Regions from separate parts of the Homo sapiens genome. Here all the other regions are reported to be linked to region 1. Evidence: microRNA targets listed by miRTarBase, many of them from high-throughput screens and not tested one by one. Region 1 holds a microRNA gene; each other region holds the end of a gene's coding sequence.
The links. Region 1 holds the annotated microRNA hsa-miR-603 (CACACACUGCAAUUACUUUUGC, at 2,431-2,452, shown strand). A microRNA usually pairs through its seed, bases 2 to 8, with sites in the 3' UTR of a target mRNA and lowers its output. Matches are read on the target gene's strand: a 7mer-m8 pairs with bases 2 to 8, a 7mer-A1 pairs with bases 2 to 7 and ends in A, and an 8mer does both.

Region 1 (3,447 bases):
TTTCCTTCATTCCCTTTTCTCTAGTCATATTCTCAGACAGTCCAGGCTAAGTATTAATGATCTTCTTTGAAGTTAAACATACCCTTGCTACTTTCATTACATTATTATTTTTATGTTCTTCCTTTTGGAGTACTCAAGGTAAATGACATGGCAGAATCTGTCCCAGTCCAGTGAGGGTGTCACATAAGAGGCCCTTGGCTTACCTCTATGCATAACTGGCCCACGTCACATCTTTAATTAGAAGTCCAAGTTATTGGCTGGACGCCATGGCTCATGCCTGTAATCCAAGCACTTTGGGAGGCCAAGGTGGGTGGATCACCTGAGGTCAGGAGTTCGAGACCAGCCTGGCCAACATAGTGAAACCCTGTCTCTACTAAAAATGCAAATATCAGCCGGGTGTGGTGGCACATGCCTGTAATCACAGCTACTCGGGAGGCTTGAGGCTGGAGAATCGCCTGAGCACACGAGATGGAGGTTGCAGTGAGCCGAGATCGTGCCACTGTGTTCTAGCCTGGGCGACAGAACAAGACTCTGTCTCAAAAAAAAAAAAAAAGTCCAAGTTACTGTTGCAGGGATTGGGACATCTTGCCTTTCTCAAGTTGAGCAATATTCCCAAATATAAAAATGTAGGATCTTAGTCCAATCAGAGCAGATATTTGGTGTAGGGCATTTTCTAATGTAGTACCAATAAATTAGACGCATACCTCAACCAAAAAACAGCCCATATCCAGTAAGTAATAAGGCAATGATTTACATTTCACATATTACCAGAGTAATGACTAATAGCATACATGTATAAACTGAAAAGTGACTGATGCTTATTTTCAGATGGGTCCAAATTTATTGGATAATTATGGAGAATAATGTATGTTTTCTGAGAGTTGGTAGTAAGAAAATATTGCCATTGCTGGCCAGGCACAATGGCTCACACCTATAATCCCAGCATTTTGGGAGACTTGAGGTCAGGAGTTCATGACCAGCCACCTCAGCCTCCCAAGTAACTAGAACTACTGGTGCATGCCACCAAGTCCAGCTAATTTTTTTTTTTTTTTGAGACGGAATATTGCTCTGTCACCCAGATTGGCTGTGTTCTCCATTCTAAGTCCAGTGGTTAGAAATTGTCAAGTTCTCACATCTGCAAAAAAAGTAAAAAAGATGAACCTGCTACATCTAAATATACTTTGTTGTCTTCCTACAAGTCCTATTTTACATACTTATGGCATTTTTACTGCAGTTTGAAAATACAGTCAATTCTTGTTATTCACAGTATTGATGTTCTATAAACTTGCCCTAAATACTGCATTAGTGAGTCCTGAATTTATTAGTTAATACTGAATTTCCTAGGGGAAATACAGGGTTAGGTTCCTGTGAGTCTTTGGTTACCTTTTTATCAACCAATCAACAAAAATCCTTATTTTACCTGTGTTTTTGTTTGAAGACACCTTTTAAAATATATATTATTGATTCATTAGCATTGAACTAAGCTTATCTAATGCACTTATTTTTTGTGTAAGGTGTATCACAGCCTTCTTGAGCCTAGGAATGCCAAATAGTACTTCCACACCATACTTAAGGGCCATTTCATTTTATTTCTTATTTTTAAAATTTATTCTCTTTTCTTATTTAAAGAAAAAATTTGTAGATGCCGGGTCTCGCCCTCTTGACCAGGCTGGAGTGCAGTGACACAATCACAACTCACTGGAGCCTCAAACTCCTGGGCTCAAGTGATCTTCCCACCTCAGCCTCCCAAATATCTGGGACTACAGGCACACGCCACCATGCCCAGCTAATTTTTTAATTTTATTTTTTTGTAGAGGCAGGGTCTGGCTATGTTTTTGAGGTCTTAATTCCCCAATGAACATGACTAGTATATTCCAGGCTGGTCTTGAACTCCTGTCACAAAGCAATTCTCTTGCCTTAGCCTCCCAAAGTGCTGGGATTTCAGGCATGAGCCACTGCACCTGGCTTGGACCATTTTAAATAGTGAAGTCACTCACACACACATACACGCATGCAGGTGCACACACAGACACAAAAAGACACAAAAATGCGAAACTTGTGGCACTAAAAAGACTGTGGAAAGGGTGCTTCCTTACAGTATGAAAACTGAAACAAAAAAGCAGAGTGTTGTTTAGTTAGACGCCACCTGGGAACGTGCTTGTTGGGAAACTCCAGTTGTCCACTGTCCTGCCATGTCTATGATGACTGCAAACATTTGGGAGTATTAATTTGAGGGTCACAAACAGATTTTAGGTGATGGGCATATTTACAAATACAGAATCTGCTAGTAATGAGGACTGACTGTATAATGCTTTAGTAGTCTCAAGTATGTTTTTTTTCTCATTAAGCCTTTGCTTAAGATGCAGGCAAGATTGATGCTGTTGGTTTGGTGCAAAAGTAATTGCAGTGCTTCCCATTTAAAAGTAATGGCACACACTGCAATTACTTTTGCTCCAACTTAATACTTGGCTTTATTGACTTTTAGCATCAGTGCAGTTTGGTTAATGATAAAATTTTCCAAAGCAGTGTCTCATCTGCAGGAGCAAACTATAGCAAGGGCCCTGGCCATCAGTTCTCCCTTCTGGTCCTGATATTCCTTTTTAAACTGTCTTTCCATACCCCTCCCTCCAGTGGGCTTGGCGATGTTGCATTAAATAGCAAAGAGAAGGAAACTCCTCCCCAGTCCTCACTGACCATTTCTTTTTCCACTCAGTCCTGCTCAGAATGTAGAAGAGAAGTTGAATTTAATTCATAAATTCAGCAGCTTGAGGACTGTCAGTTTTGTCGTTATTTAGTGAAATAGTAATTGAATTGGGCTACAAGGTCATTGGAATCTGCTGTTTCATTTCATATCATTTTACGTGTTATTATTCTAATAAGAATACAAATGGAGTTTGATGCCATTTGCTGATCATCCATCTTATTGATGCCATTGAACAGAACGCAGAAACACAAAGGGATTTATAAGGCATTTCAGTTTTGATGTCCTTTGAAAAATGAAAGTCTTTTCAGAAATGCAAAAGACAAAATGACTTAGAATTCCATCTCGTTCTGCCCGGTTTGAGGGCATCCCTTCCTATTCCTTAGATAGCTGTTAATAAGAGTCCTGAGGAAAACTGGGTTTGAATTTAAAAACAAAAAATTTTTAAGAGACAGGGTCTCGCTTTGTCACCCAGGCTGGAGTGCAGTGGCACAATCATAGCCCCTGTAACCTTGAAGTCCTGGACTCAAGTGATGCTCCCACCTCAGCCTCCCTAGTAGCTGGAACTACTGGCACATGCCATCAAGTCCAGCTTTTTTTTTTTTTTTTTCTGAGATGGAATCTCACTTTGTCACCGAGGCCGTAGTGCAGTGGCGCGATCTCGGCTCACAGCAACCTCTGTCTCTCAAGTTCAAGTGATTGTCCTGCCTCAGCCTCCTGAGTAGCTGGGACTACAAGCATGTGCT
Region 2 (3,000 bases), not on the chromosome of region 1:
TTTACCCCCATTTTATAAACATCCAATTATTAACTGTTCCTGCTGGGTTGGAGTGTAAGAAGAGACCAAATGGAGAGATGTCTAGTAGAAGCCCCACTGGGGGTAACCTGCTTAACATTAAAAAAAAGACAGGCTCAGTTCTATTCCCTGGACCCACATCTGTAGGAATTATATTATACAGCACCAGTCTTAAATGGTGTTCTGCTTCAGATTCATGCATACCTGAATGGGTTGTAATGACAATACTGTACAAGTCAATAAACTGTATCACAATACAACTTACACAGTTTTGTAAGGTTGAATAAATACTTTCTGTGCCAGTTAAAACCATCAGCAGAAACTGAAGAAAACAAACTGACATTTGCTATAACATTAATCAATGAAAAGTGCACCATCTGAACTTGAATTTGCCCATGAGTTTGAAAACACACACACACACACACACACACACACACAGGCCGGGTGCAGTGACTCATGCCTGTAATCCCAGCACTTTGGGAGGCCAAGGTGGGTGGATCACCTGAGGTCAGGAGTTCGAGACCAGCCTGGCCAACATGGTGAAACCCCCGTCTCCACTAAAAGTACAAAATTAGCCAGGTGTGGTGGCGGGTGCCTATAATTCCAGCTACTCAGGAGGCTGAGGCAGGAGAATTGCTTGAAGCCGGGAGGCGGAGGTTGCAGTGAGCCGAGATCACACCATTGCACTCCAGCCTGGGCAAAAAGAGCGAAACTCCATCTCAAAAAAAAAAAAAAAAAACCGAAACAAAACACACACACACACACATACACACACAAAAAAAACACTGCACCATCACTGAAAACTTTCTCTTTCCAATCACTACTACTACTACTTTAGATATTAAAGGTCTGGATGACTAAGTGGTATATGTTCAAGGAATGTTCATATTTTGAGTCTAATTTAATTAGAGCAAAAATTTCAACATTTCTAGGGGAATAAAAAGAGTCTCATCTAGGCACCTATAAAGTTCCTTATCCTCAGAGCTGAAAAGTGGCTCTGGTACACTTAATAGAAAATTTTTATTAATAAAAGAAATAGCTATATAATCCTACTGAGATGAAATTTCCATCTGTAGGACTAACCAACTTTTTCTGTGTCCATAAAAGTCTTGGCTTCAGTTCTGTGTTGTACAACTTTGGGCAACGTATTTAACTTCTTTGAATTTGTTTTTTTCTTTTTTCTTTTCCTTTTTTCTTTTTTTTGAGATGGAGTCTCGCTCTGTCACCCTGGCTGGAATGCAGTGGCGCGATCTCGGCTCACTGCAACCTCTGCCTCCTGGGCTCAAGCGATTCTCATGGCTCAGCCTCCCGAGCAGCCAGGATTACAGGCACCTGCCACCACACCCAGCTAATTTTTTGTGTGTATTTTTAGTAGAGACAGAGTTTCACCATGTTGCCAGGCTGGTCTCGAACTCCTGACCTCAAATGATCCACTCGCCTTGGACTCCCATAGTGCTGGGATTACAGACGTGAGCCATAGCACCCAGCCTCAGTTTATTAGTAAAATGGAGATGCAAATATCTATCTCATAAGGTTGATTTAAGGATTGGTTGAGATGATATGCATACATATACCACAGTGCATGGCACATGGTGGACACTAAAAAATAAAGGTGGCTCCCATGCCCTTGAAAGGACATTTTCATATTAGCTATAATTTCACAAAGTTTAAATTTATTTACTTATTTTTAAAATGTTTTTGTAGAGATGGGATCTTGCTATGTTGCCCAGGCTAGTCTCAAACTCCCACCCTCAAACTCCTGCCTTAGCCTCCCAAAGTGGTGGAGATTACAGGTGTGAGCCACTGCATCCAGCCTCCACAAAGTTTAATGTTGACATGTGAGGCACAAGCAAACTACTCAAATGCCACATAATTTGGAGGAGGAGTTGCAAGATGTCTAATTTTATAAGGTACTTAATAACAGTACCTTATAATATTACAAGTAGGGCTTCCTCCTAAGTGAGATTCCCCTAGATATAATATAAGGCAAAACAATGGAGATATGTGATGAGTCTATTCCTTAGCCCAGGTCAAACAGCCCATGGGTTTAAAGGGGCCATGATAGTTCAGTGATGAGAATTATGTGTATAAGGCTAGTGTTCTCCATTTCCATCATGTCTCTCTACTACCTTAAACTCAGCATTTCTCTCATTATTCTCATCTTTGAGCTATTTTTTAAATGTAACAACAACAAGGCTTTTCCTTGTGAAACACAACTACTTTCACAGACAAAGCACAAAACAGAGAATGAGCCCAAGAATCACATAGAAAAGGCTGCTATAAAAAAAAAATGGAGACAGAGTAAAGATGGCATGGTGCCAGACCATTCCCAACAATTCTCCAGTGATTACTACAGCAGCAACAGGAGAATCCTCCTCTAACAGCCTGACTCGCTCTTTAACCTTTTAAAATTTCAAGAATTTTGTAGAATACTTCATGGGATCCTGACCCTTAGAAAAATATTTTCTTTGGCACTTTCTGTTGTATATTCAGGATGGAGACAATCAGAGATTTCATTTCTTTTGCAGAAATTTCATTTTGCTTCCTAAAGGGAAAGAAAAGTACAGTGAATGCTCAATTCATTTTTATTTATTGTACATTATTTGAGGTAAGGGATTAACAGGTCAGTCATTCAGAACAGCCCAAGAGTTAAGCTGACATCTCAAACTCAGTTGATGTGTTTAACCCCCAAAACAAAAACAAAAATGAACCCCAAACCCCATATGTCTAGTTAATTGTAGCGGCAGAAAAGAACTCAGACATCATGTAATCCAGTGGTTTTCAACCTTGACTATAGGTTAAAATCACCTGGCTTCTCCCCAGAGATTTCCTGGAGCCCAGGGGAAAATTTTTTTTAAGTTCTCTGGAAATTATAAAATGTAGTCAGAGCTGGGAACCACTGATCTAATCTAACCCCATTGTATAAAGATGAAATAACAGCCTAAGGCCTAATTTGTCCATGGTCTGTCAGCTAGTGAAGGA
Region 3 (3,000 bases), not on the chromosome of region 1:
AGGGAATCGAACATGAGCAGCAAAAAAAAAGCTGTTAAAGAAAAGCTCTCAATTGAGGAGGAGCTGGAGAAATGTATCCAGGATTTCCTAAAAATCAAAATTCCAGATCGGTTTCCTGAGAGAAAACATCCTTGGCAATCTGAACTTTTAAGGAAGTATCATCTATAAGGGAGGGCTGGGGGCGGGAAAAGAAAAAAAAAAGTCATTTTGAAATTAACCTCCTAAAAGGAATTCATATTTTAAAGGAAAAAAATACAACTAATGATGCACATTTCTTAGAACACAATAGTCCATTGATATACTACTGCCTACTTTACCTAGTTCACCTTAACATGTAAATCCACAGGGTAGATTTCTTTCTAGATGTGGAAGTACAAGAAAATCTTTTTTAGTTATTTGTTTGTTTACTTCGTCCCATGTGCTAACTATCTTATATATAATGAGAGCCAGCTACGTAAAAGTAGCTGAGAGGCCTTGGGAGTCATTTATCCCAAACTGGGTTTTTTCTCTCATCCTTCTACCTCCCTCCTTTGAATGAGGGTATGGTAGAAAAAGATCTGGCCCAATGGCATAAGTTTGGAATTTTTAATTTTGGTTTTTCCTTTTGTTTATGGGGTTGGGGGGAATGGCAGATTTATATGACTTTTCACTCAAATCTATATGTGCCAGTTTATATTGACTCCGTATGCATGAGTATTTGTGCAACACAAGCACAACTAAGTATGTATATACACATGACGCACACGATGCCAGGGCCTAGACCTCCCAAGGGCTGTGCTCCTGCTCCCAGCAGCCCTCTCTTAGAATATTTCAGATGGATGAGCTTCTGACTCTTTCTTAAAATTCTTTTGGGAAGATTTCCCAGCCTTTCTTCACAACACTTTCTAACATCAAATGACTCTCATCATCAACAAATTGTATTCCTTATTGTGAAATTAATACCCTCAGGCTCCATTTTACTGCTTTGCTCTTTGTCTGCATTAAGAGAGGATGAGGAGAGCTGGTCAAACATTCCTTGTGTTAAAAAAATCAAACATTCATATCCACAAAATTTTCTGCTAAATGACTCCACACTCAGCCTTCTCTACCCTGAACTGAATTATCACCCTTTTCTCCATGTTTTCAGAGTTCTTACTGCCCACAGTTTAATGGTGTGGCCTTTCCACATAATCCACATTAAGTTCTGTGTTCCTGTGTTGTTGTGGAACTAAGGACAACACACAGTACTTGAATAAGGGTCCGGCCTTTTGTTTGTTTTAGAGAAAGTTGTATTCCACACACAACCTAATAATTTCTTATAAAAATTTTAAACTACAAAGCTACATTTTTACTTGCTTGTAGCCGTTTTTGTTTGCCTTTGGGATTCGGGCTTTGGCTGTGCCCATGCTAGGATTTAGCTGTGTCATTTTTATGATGTCTGTAACAACCCAACAAGGTAACTGAAGCTCCAGAGTTAAGGTTTCAGATTTCTAAATGAAACTATCTTTTTCAATTACATCCTGACTTGTATAGACACAGCCAAAAAGAAACTGTTAATAGCCATCCGTCCATGTAACTCTGTATTTTACTAAGGTACCAATAGCTCTTTCATAGACTTGTGCTACAAGAAGGTTAAAAGACCAGTTTTATTTTCAGCATTCCTCATGCATTTCAGTGGTAACCAAAAAATAATTTGTCAATTAATAGTTGTGTGCCAAGCACTCCTAATTTGTTTTATTGCGTGTGTGTGCATGTGTGTATGTGTATCACAGGTAATAAAGGCAATTGGATGATATCTGTAGGAGGAAAACAATGACTAATTTCTTCCTTTTGAAATCTTTCATTGATGCACATTTATTATGTAAGATGTTCTGTCTTGATTTCTGTTCTTAGTGATGATTAGTATATGAATATCTTTCTGAATTTTTGTAATTCTCGCCTTCACACTAGGATGACAGACTCAGCTAATGTTTCCTTGTCCTGAAGGTTTGAATGGAGTTGAAAGTTTTACATAAGTGAAAAAGAAAGTTTATCTTGGGAGTTGAGTTGTCAAGAGAATTATAATTTATGAATTTAAGTGGTATTCTTTTCTGTATTAATATATTAGCAGATATTTGGTCTTAACTACAACATAGCTTTGTTTGTAAACTTACCAGTATGTCTTGATTCTTTTCAATGTTTCTTGATAGCACATGGCAATACCATCATCCTAATAACAGAAGATCTTGCAAAGAATCACAGAGCTTAATGGGTCAAGAAGTTGAATTTGGGGAAAATATCCTGAAACTCACTTTGGTCAAATGATTATTGTGTTGTCACTGGAAGTACTGTCAAAGACTTTGGGGGTCTAACTAAAATGGCCAAAGTTCCAACTTCCTTAAATTTCAGACCTGACTGTAATGGCCTCAAGATAGAGAGATACCCTTATAAGAGTAAAGAATTAAGATGATAGTCAACCCAATATTTCTACTACATTCTTTAAACAGGAAATTAAACACTGCAAAAGGAGTGTTCGTGGCAGTGTTCCTCTGACCCCTGACCTGTCATGAGTTTTCTCTGCTCTGACATTCCTTATACATCCAGTGAACAAAGCTGGAATAGAAAACCTGTTTAAAACCATCACAACAGCAATATTTTTATTCTGGGCCACCTCTCGACTGGCACTCATCCCATGGTAAAATATTCAAGTAACTAAGACAACAGCATGGCATTTATTTGTGTGAGTGTTTATATAGAAATGAACATAGACCTGGCCAGTAAAAGGCTCTGAGGAGGCTTAAAGTACCTAGTTTGAGTGGAGTTATCAAGTGAGGTCCAGGTAGCCTGCAACACTGGAAATGAGTTCTGGGTAAGTGAGTTATAAGAGTACATGCTCTAGTAACTCTGGTAGTCACTGTGACTCGGGCATGTTTCCCTGAAGTTAAAATAGTTTTTAGAACTTTTTGTTTAATTCTGAAGAAAACAATATATATGGTTTACTTCTCGAACATTGGTTATGACAAGGGCCATAAATTGCTAATA
Region 4 (3,000 bases), not on the chromosome of region 1:
AAAAGTACCAAACAAAATTAACTCCAAAAGTAGACCTTAAAGTAGCGTTTTATAGGAATGCATGAAGATTTTTGTCTTTTTCACAATTTTCTTTCTTTTAGGTCGATTATCTAAGGTCTCATGCTACTTTAAGACTACTTTTGGCTGTCACCTAAAATCAATTTTTTCAGTGCTACATAGTATACCTATGACATCCTAGAAACTTGATTCTTCCCTGTGGTCAAATGTTTAATATTTTTCAGCCAAAAAAAAAATGCCTTTTGGAAAAACTAAAGCCTGAATATGTGCACATTTTAGCAGCAGCAAAGGGTTAAATAATAAATAAGAATACTACTTTTTGGAATTAAATGCAGTTTCTGTTTAGAAAGGAAAATAAAACAAGAAAATAAATGAAGAGGACATTCTGAGCTTTATCATAAATCAACTATTTTACATTGCTTCTGTCCCCTCCCCCTAAAATATATCTTAATTCCAAATATTAGACTTAGATTTTCCTTAATGCACATCAGCAGGAGGGCATTGCCATGTACTCCAACTTGGACCACAGAAAGGCAAGACATCGTCACAATAAGTCATGCGCTTCTAGCTCATAACAGCTGTCACTCACCAGTGACACACTTTTATTTTTCATAGAGAATGTGCATCAGAGCAAAATAAAGTTTGAATAGTAAATTTTAAAATTAGTTCAATAAATCCCAACACATGTTTAAACCGTCACTTTGCACTTCTCAACACAACTGGCTAGAAAGTGTCATATGTAGATGAGAATTTGTTATAAATTCCTTTTTTCTTAAATATTGCTTTAAGAATTTGGCTCTTTTCTCCTTAGTATATAGTAAGAAATAGTCTCGCTTGCCCAAGGGCAAGTTCCAAAATTATTGCTACTAAAGAAATACGTATTCTTATGCTTTTCAGCATAAAATGTTATAAAAGCCTTGTAAAAGATATTCTATATAGTAATATCCCCTCTAAAAAAATTGAGCGCTTGTGGAGACCATTTTAAAAAACAAAACACAGTCAACAAGTATAATACTTTCCCCCTCATTGTCATTATTGATAACGATTTATTAGTTTCATTTTGCAAGTTTTACTAAGGGTGCTATTACCACGTAATTATGACAGTTCACACTGATAGCCATTTTCTCTAAAAGATGTTACAATGACCCCTATGATACTTCTATAATTTCATATTTGATAGCCAAGTGAACCAAAAAAAGTTTACAAGTATGATCCTGTTAATCTGATTCTTACGTCTTTAAAAAAAATAGTCTGTGCTATGTACTTTTTTTTCCTTTTTTGAGAATTCTAAATCAATACAATGTTTGATGTTAATACTGTCATTCTGGAGATCGGCTAAAATGAAAGCATAGTTATTATTTAGCTTTGGTATATTCTGCGACAGATTTAAACAAGTAAGACATATATCAACCCTCATATTTTCCAACCATGAAGTTACAATAGTGGAGTCACTTATGAGAGAGGAAATATTGCAGACACAGAATCAAAGTTTGAGACCCAGTTTATCTTTAATCCTCTGGGATAAGCTATGAAACAAGCAGTCTGAAGAGTGAATACTCAGTGTCATGAGCGATGTGCATAAGTTTACAATAATATGGGCACAAAAGAGATTGTCGCCTTTAGTACATTAGGGTCATTAGAATTTCTTATATCCATGCACCATTATATCTACTTGCATGAATTTACCACAGGTTCATAGCGGACTTTGCCATTTAATGCTTACAGAGCCTAAAGCTTCCAAAATGCCTATCTGGCCTGTACATGTTTCATTAAAAATAAACTCTATATAATAAATAAATATATAAAATAAATAAAATGTTGCCTTTGGAATTTCTATAAATAAATTTAACTTTTTTTATTTTTATTTTTTATTTTTTTTTATTTTTTACTAAGAGGTCTTTGCTTTAAGTTCACTGCGATGATACCAGTGAGAATTAACTGAAAGTCTTTTAAGTAAGACTGCACCCTCGCGCAGGCCACCAGCCAGAATCCTGATAAGTCGAAGTATGGCAGCTGTGCTGATATAGGATGAAGTACAACTGATCAGAAATGAAAAGCGTGTCTTTTTCCAGCATGCATCAGGCCGCAGTCCTTTTGCTCTCGCTCCGCCCACATCTCCCGCTACACACATACACACACACACACACACACACACACACACATACACACACTCCTAGCGCTCAGTCTCTCTCTCTCTCCTCTTCTCTCATGATAAATCAAGCAAGTGGCCCTAGGCAGCCCTCCAGGAGGAGAAGCCTTTAAGTGCAGAACAAAATCAGCATATTCCCATCCAAGCCTCCATCATACATTATGCATGCGACAAAGTTTGGCAACAGTGGAGCTGATGTGATGACACAGCGAATCAATAAGAACCCACCGCGTGAAACCTTTATAGTGGTTACTTTTTTAAGGGCTCAAGTGAAGAAACTGTCTTTGTCAACTTTGGCTTAGAATATCCTTATACAGTTCAGGTACTTTGTCGGGGTCCACTGGTCTAGGTAAAAAATGTGTGAATTTCTGGTGCCGTTTAGTCCTAGTCCCTTCTCTCGGGGTCCCATCTTTATTTAATGCAACATAGTATCGCCTTCCAGTGTCCACGTGCTTATATAGGTTTGATGAGTACGTATTATACCAGTTTTCTTCGAACTGTTCTCTGAATACACACTCTTGGGTTAGTTTTTCCTGTAAAAAGAAAAAGAGGGAGAGCATTAGGAAAAATAGCTAATGCATGCTGGGCTTAATACCTAGGGGATGGATTGATAGGTGCAGCAAACCACCTTGGCACACGTTTATCTATTTAACAAACCTGCGCATCCTACACATGTACCCCAGAACTAAAAATTAAAATTAAAATTTTTTAAAAAGGTAAATAAATATGTTGCATAATTAGCTACATTCAATATTAAAAGTAACATTCCGTTGCTACACAATATAACCCCCATGAGAAAACACTGATGTTTTAGCCCATTTTAACCATTTTAA

Region 2: the mRNA of DENND2C is a reported target of hsa-miR-603. Seed matches in the 3' UTR shown: 7mer-A1 at 785-791.
Region 3: miRTarBase lists KCTD16 as a target of hsa-miR-603. Seed matches in the 3' UTR shown: 7mer-A1 at 1,733-1,739.
Region 4: miRTarBase lists FGF9 as a target of hsa-miR-603. Seed matches in the 3' UTR shown: 7mer-m8 at 2,184-2,190, 7mer-A1 at 2,181-2,187, 7mer-A1 at 2,149-2,155, 7mer-A1 at 2,141-2,147 and 7mer-m8 at 613-619.

What each region holds. Positions count from the first base shown.
Region 1 is chr10:24,273,315-24,276,761 of GRCh38, forward strand. MIR603 (microRNA 603) reads left to right here and starts at 2,371; the gene lies at 2,371-2,467. All of the region lies in intron 2 of KIAA1217, which reads left to right.
Region 2 is chr1:114,583,069-114,586,068 of GRCh38, forward strand. DENND2C (DENN domain containing 2C) reads right to left here. Exons shown (of 21, transcript NM_001256404.2): 21 at 1-2,563. The coding sequence ends at 2,532. All of the region lies in intron 2 of LOC105378914 (a long non-coding RNA gene), which reads left to right. Among named protein-coding and RNA genes, the nearest start is that of BCAS2, 3.0 kb to the left of the region's middle.
Region 3 is chr5:144,473,947-144,476,946 of GRCh38, forward strand. It overlaps KCTD16 (potassium channel tetramerization domain containing 16), which reads left to right. Exons shown (of 4, transcript NM_020768.4): 4 at 1-3,000. The coding sequence ends at 168. Among named protein-coding and RNA genes, the nearest start is that of KCTD16, 300 kb to the left of the region's middle.
Region 4 is chr13:21,700,890-21,703,889 of GRCh38, reverse strand. It overlaps FGF9 (fibroblast growth factor 9), which reads right to left. Exons shown (of 3, transcript NM_002010.3): 3 at 1-2,700. The coding sequence ends at 2,455. Among named protein-coding and RNA genes, the nearest start is that of FGF9, 31 kb to the right of the region's middle.